2 linked regions of the Homo sapiens genome follow. The protein of the gene in region 1 purifies or fractionates together with the protein of each later gene. This does not show direct contact. Each region holds a gene or a part of one and is shown in the gene's direction. Other genes may lie near its edges.

Evidence for each region. The genes of interacting proteins can lie anywhere in the genome.
Region 2: the proteins of UBE3A (region 1) and PSMA1 purify together in Homo sapiens (affinity purification with mass spectrometry; 4 studies listed by BioGRID, with this or other methods). This does not show direct contact.

What each region holds. Positions count from the first base shown.
Region 1 is NC_000015.10:25,369,525-25,373,024, reverse strand, and holds part of UBE3A (ubiquitin-protein ligase E3A), read left to right. Parts: intron 1-1,212; coding exon 1,213-2,459; intron 2,460-3,500. UniProt on the Homo sapiens protein: E3 ubiquitin-protein ligase which accepts ubiquitin from an E2 ubiquitin-conjugating enzyme in the form of a thioester and transfers it to its substrates.
Region 2 is NC_000011.10:14,504,376-14,507,381, reverse strand, and holds the end of PSMA1 (proteasome subunit alpha type-1), read left to right. Parts: intron 1-2,133; coding exon 2,134-2,190; 3' UTR 2,191-2,506; downstream 2,507-3,006. UniProt on the Homo sapiens protein: Component of the 20S core proteasome complex involved in the proteolytic degradation of most intracellular proteins. This complex plays numerous essential roles within the cell by associating with different regulatory particles.

The sequences.
Region 1 (3,500 bases):
CTTGTAGCTGGGCCACAGATCAGATCCTTAGTATGATAAAATTTGGTATTTTTGTGCTTCAATTTTTGGAGACCATTCAATGATCACTTACATTTTATATTGTCTTTCATTGTGAAACATATATTATAGCAGAGGTGGGAGTCATTAAAAATTCTACATGTTGTACACTACATGTATAAGGGTATATTTGGCGCAATGGAGGTAGGATTGTCTGTGTGCCTCTAAAATTAACCTCTCAAGTAGTTAATCTGATGATGACAAGTATGTCACTTTATTGATAAAAGGGAGAATTAAGACTATTCTCAGTATTATGTTGGTCAGTACACAAAATATATCATTTGTTTTTACCTGTGAAATGAAATATCTTTCATCCTATTAGCCAGAAGGGAGAAAGCCTTGGCCTGAAAATAACACTTATCTCAAAAAGTTGGGAAATGTGGTCCAACTCTGTGCCCAGGAAAAGAGGAAATAGATTTTGATGACTACATAGTCTCTGCACTGCTTGCCAGCTCATAAGTTTACTTCTTTGCACTGTTTGTTTTCATTGCTCAAAAACTATTTTCTGTCACTCTATGAGATTTAGTCTAACCTGATTCCTGGCTGTGGAAAGCAGTTTCTACTTAAGAGCCGATGAGAAATGGTATATTCTTCTCAATCACTCACAGAATGACTACCCTGGAACAAACTAGGAAGACCCAAAATGAACCAGTTTGATTTTAATACATACATAGATGCTGAAGGAGCCTTTTTTTAAGACCTTGCCTTCTTAGTCTTTGGAGAACAGAGTACTGAAACAAGAAAACTCACAGATTAGTAGTATTTCTGTGTGTTCTACAGTGAGGTTTTAAGAGCTGTATTATGATTAATCAGTACATGACATATTGGTTCATATTTATAATTAAAGCTATACATTAATAGATATCTTGATTATAAAGAAAGTTTAAACTCATGATCTTATTAAGAGTTATACATTGTTGAAAGAATGTAAAAGCATGGGTGAGGTCATTGGTATAGGTAGGTAGTTCATTGAAAAAAATAGGTAAGCATTAAATTTTGTTTGCTGAATCTAAGTATTAGATACTTTAAGAGTTGTATATCATAAATGATATTGAGCCTAGAATGTTTGGCTGTTTTACTTTTAGAACTTTTTGCAACAGAGTAAACATACATATTATGAAAATAAATGTTCTCTTTTTTCCTCTGATTTTCTAGATGTGACTTACTTAACAGAAGAGAAGGTATATGAAATTCTTGAATTATGTAGAGAAAGAGAGGATTATTCCCCTTTAATCCGTGTTATTGGAAGAGTTTTTTCTAGTGCTGAGGCATTGGTACAGAGCTTCCGGAAAGTTAAACAACACACCAAGGAAGAACTGAAATCTCTTCAAGCAAAAGATGAAGACAAAGATGAAGATGAAAAGGAAAAAGCTGCATGTTCTGCTGCTGCTATGGAAGAAGACTCAGAAGCATCTTCCTCAAGGATAGGTGATAGCTCACAGGGAGACAACAATTTGCAAAAATTAGGCCCTGATGATGTGTCTGTGGATATTGATGCCATTAGAAGGGTCTACACCAGATTGCTCTCTAATGAAAAAATTGAAACTGCCTTTCTCAATGCACTTGTATATTTGTCACCTAACGTGGAATGTGACTTGACGTATCACAATGTATACTCTCGAGATCCTAATTATCTGAATTTGTTCATTATCGTAATGGAGAATAGAAATCTCCACAGTCCTGAATATCTGGAAATGGCTTTGCCATTATTTTGCAAAGCGATGAGCAAGCTACCCCTTGCAGCCCAAGGAAAACTGATCAGACTGTGGTCTAAATACAATGCAGACCAGATTCGGAGAATGATGGAGACATTTCAGCAACTTATTACTTATAAAGTCATAAGCAATGAATTTAACAGTCGAAATCTAGTGAATGATGATGATGCCATTGTTGCTGCTTCGAAGTGCTTGAAAATGGTTTACTATGCAAATGTAGTGGGAGGGGAAGTGGACACAAATCACAATGAAGAAGATGATGAAGAGCCCATCCCTGAGTCCAGCGAGCTGACACTTCAGGAACTTTTGGGAGAAGAAAGAAGAAACAAGAAAGGTCCTCGAGTGGACCCCCTGGAAACTGAACTTGGTGTTAAAACCCTGGATTGTCGAAAACCACTTATCCCTTTTGAAGAGTTTATTAATGAACCACTGAATGAGGTTCTAGAAATGGATAAAGATTATACTTTTTTCAAAGTAGAAACAGAGAACAAATTCTCTTTTATGACATGTCCCTTTATATTGAATGCTGTCACAAAGAATTTGGGATTATATTATGACAATAGAATTCGCATGTACAGTGAACGAAGAATCACTGTTCTCTACAGCTTAGTTCAAGGACAGCAGTTGAATCCATATTTGAGACTCAAAGTTAGACGTGACCATATCATAGATGATGCACTTGTCCGGGTAAGTTGGGCTGCTAGATTAAAAACCTAATAATGGGGATATCATGATACAGTTCAGTGAATTCATTTTAAAAGTGACTGAAAAAAATGATACCATATAGCATAGGAACACATGGACATTTCTGATCTTATATAAGTATTATACTTTTGTTGTTCCTGTGCAAGTTTATAGATGTGTTCTACAAAGTATCGGTTGTATTATATAATGGTCATGCTATCTTTGAAAAAGAATGGGTTTTCTAAATCTTGAAAACTAAATCCAAAGTTTCTTTCATTCAGAAGAGAATAGAGTGTTGGACAAAGACCAGAACAAGAGAAATGTGGAGATACCCAATAATAAGTGTGGATGTGCAGTCTTGAACTGGGAGTAATGGTACAGTAAAACCATACCATAAAATTATAGGTAGTGTCCAAAAAATTCCATCGTGTAAAATTCAGAGTTGCATTATTGTGGACTTGATGAAGTGACCATGGCAGATCAGTGCCTGTTGCCAGTAAGAGTTGAGTCCTGCTGGGCCACTTAGAATATCCCTGTGTGGACGGCACTGCCTGGCTGTGGTAGTTTCTTCCCACTTAAAAATTCATAGAGACAACTCTGGGTCTTGGAACTTCTGGAAAACAGCAGCTATTCCAAAAATCTGGGGATTAGTGGTGCCTGTAACATCAAGTCCAGGGAGATTGAGCAGGGAAATACTGGAAACTCAGGTACTCATCCTAACTTCCTGGTTTTCCAGATGGGGTTGCCATTTGTTCCTTTTCTTTCCTCCACAAGATAATTTTAGTGTATCTGTTTAAGAATATAAGAGTGGCCAGAAGACAGAAAGCAGTCGTCAGTCACATTTCACCAAAATTTACATTTGTCTCAGGTGCATTATCGCAGAGCTTTATTGTATTTCTAGTATTAGCTATCCCTGTCATTGCTGCTACTTTTTTATCATCTTCAAGTAAAATTTAATGTCAACAAAAATTAAGGTAGTTAATAATACTATAGTATACTAGTAAAGTTGTCTGACACAGACAACTAGGAAATGTGATTTTTACT
Region 2 (3,006 bases), on another chromosome or scaffold:
ATCCTGGCCAACATGGTGAAACCCCGTCTCTACTAAAAATACAAAAATTAGCTGGGCGTCATGGCATGCACCTGTAGTCCCAGCTACTCAGGAGGTGAGGCAGGAGAATCGCTTGAACCCGGGAGGCGGAGGTTGCAGTGAGCTGAGATCCTACCACTGCCCTCCAGCCTGGGCGACAGAGAGAGACTCTGTCTCAAAAAAAAAAAACAAACACAAAAAGGGAGAAGTGTTGATTATTTGGTTATCTATTGCTAGGTAATAAGCTACCCCAAAACTTAGGGGCTAGAACAACAAACACTACTTCTCACAATTTTGCGGCTGACTGGGGCTCACCTACATGGTTCTTTGCTGGTCTCACCTGGGATCTCTCAAACATTGCAGTCATTTGTGGGGTGCAACTGGAACACCCAAGATAACTTCAGTCACATGTCTTCTTTACTCACACCTTTTAGGTGTCTTAGAGGAGCATCTAGAAGGCAGAGACCTCTGCTAGGATGACTGAGCCTCTGTCCACGTAGTTTCAGGGCCGCTTCTTCAGCAGGGTCTCTCTAGCATATTGGCAACTCAGGGCTTGCAAAAGTCAGAAGTGAAAGCCGCCAGGCATTCTTAAGGCTGAGATGCAGGACTGGCACAACATCACTTGTACACATTCTGTTGGTTAAAGTGAGTCACTGGCCTGGCCCAGATTCTGTTTGAGCAGAGACTGGGAGAAATGCTCATTGGGGGCCAGCTTTGGACACTAAGATGGCTCTTCATAAAGAGAAAAGCATCAAGAAGTGAATCTCAGGTGAAATATGGGTCTTTTTGCTAGATGTTTAGAATATACATTTGCTATTTATAGATGCTTATTTGATAGCAGTGTAATTGAAAGTAAAAAAGAATCTAGTATGGAAATTTCTACAGCATGAGTTTTTTTAACTTGGAAAGGATATTGTTGGTACTATTTGGGGGATCAAGATTTGCAATATTTAAACTGTTTTTGGTAAAAACTAGCACTGTTGGGAAGAATGCTGTGGAATACCACAAACTAGTTTGGCAAAGGGGAAAAGAATGTCTAAAAAGTGCTGATTGTATTTTAAACATAGTAGTGATAATACAAGGAAAGCTTTTATTCCTGAGCAATGCAAAGTACGATAAAATGGTGGAATTGTTCAATGATATTTAGGTTTTCAGAAATGTGAAATTATATATACAGTTATCCTCGAACAGTGTGGGGTTTAGTGGTGCCAAACCCCAGCATGGTTGAAAATCCACATATAACTTTTGACTCCTAAAAATCTTCTGATAGCCTGCTGTTGACTGGAAGCCTTACTGATAACATAAACTGACAATTAACACATAAATAGACTAGTTTCTTTTTTGTTGTTTTTTGAGACAAGGTCTTGCCCTCTTGTCCAGGCTGGCGTGCAGTGGTGCCATCATAGCTCACTGCAAGGTTGAACTCCTGGGCTCAAGCGATTCTCCTACCTTCCCCCGCGCCACCAAGTAGCTGAAACTACAGGTGTGTGCCACCATGCCCAGCACATTTTTTTTCTTTTTAGTAGAGATGGGATCTCACTGTGTTGCCCAGGCCAGTTTCAAACTCCTGGGCTTAAGCAATCCTCATGCCTCAGCCTCCCAGAGTGTTGGGATTACAGGTGTGAACTGCTGCACCCGACCAAATAGACTATTTTCTACATATATTTTATGCATTCGGCATACCTAACTTTTTCTTACTCTTTTTTTTTATATTTCTAGGCTACACAGTTGGTCTGCTAGTTTATATTTATTGGAAAACAAACAAACAAAAAAAAGCTTCACCCTAAACAATGTTAGAGTAAAAGCAAACAAAAAAGAAAAAGAAAAAGAAAAAGAAATCTGCATATAAGTGGACCCTCACTGTTTAAACCTTTGTTGTTCGAGCCAACTGTATTTTTTTTAAATAAAAAATCTTTATTCCCTCAAATCATGAGCACTCAAGGAGAAAAAAAATACTGCTCAGAAATGTTAACAGGACAGTGAACTAAAACTGAGTATTCAGAATATCTCTTTACCCCTTTTTCTCAATTTTTAATAACGTAATATTTGTGATTAGATGTGTATATTGATCAAGTGTTCATTTTACATATTTTCTTTTTTTCTTTCCCTGTTAAGCCTGCTCAACCTGCTGATGAACCTGCAGAAAAGGCTGATGAACCAATGGAACATTAAGTGATAAGCCAGTCTATATATGTATTATCAAATATGTAAGAATACAGGCACCACATACTGATGACAATAATCTATACTTTGAACCAAAAGTTGCAGAGTGGTGGAATGCTATGTTTTAGGAATCAGTCCAGATGTGAGTTTTTTCCAAGCAACCTCACTGAAACCTATATAATGGAATACATTTTTCTTTGAAAGGGTCTGTATAATCATTTTCTAGAAAGTATGGGTATCTATACTAATGTTTTTATATGAAGAACATAGGTGTCTTTGTGGTTTTAAAGACAACTGTGAAATAAAATTGTTTCACCGCCTGGTATATTGGGTTTTTGTTTTTTTAAGTAGCTTCAACTCTATATAGTAGTCTGGGATTACAACTGGTCATTTGCCTAATTAAATTGCCTTATTTTTAGTGATGGAGAAAAATAATACCTCTTATCTGTCATAGCCTTATAACAGTTCTCCAGTGTATGAACTGGCTGCATGAGAATCCATGGAGATTTGGTTTAGAATACAAATTTCAGGGTTCAACTGTGGTGATTTTAATTAAAACTTAAGAAACCACCACTTCCTGATATAAGCATCAGTTATCATATGAATGGTTTTCTTTCCAACCAGCAAATGGCAGTAGTTGTAGCTCTGGTCTTTGAAGGGAACTTCTGTAAAAACAACACATGGGAAATTGTAATCCCAAACCTTTTATCCTCTCCAGCCCCACTCCAGCATGATCTTTAGGCTGCCTTCTGTTATTCCCATGAGTGGCATACTCAGGTATTGCAGAACCATTTTTATCTTAGACCATGTAAACTGAAATTAGAG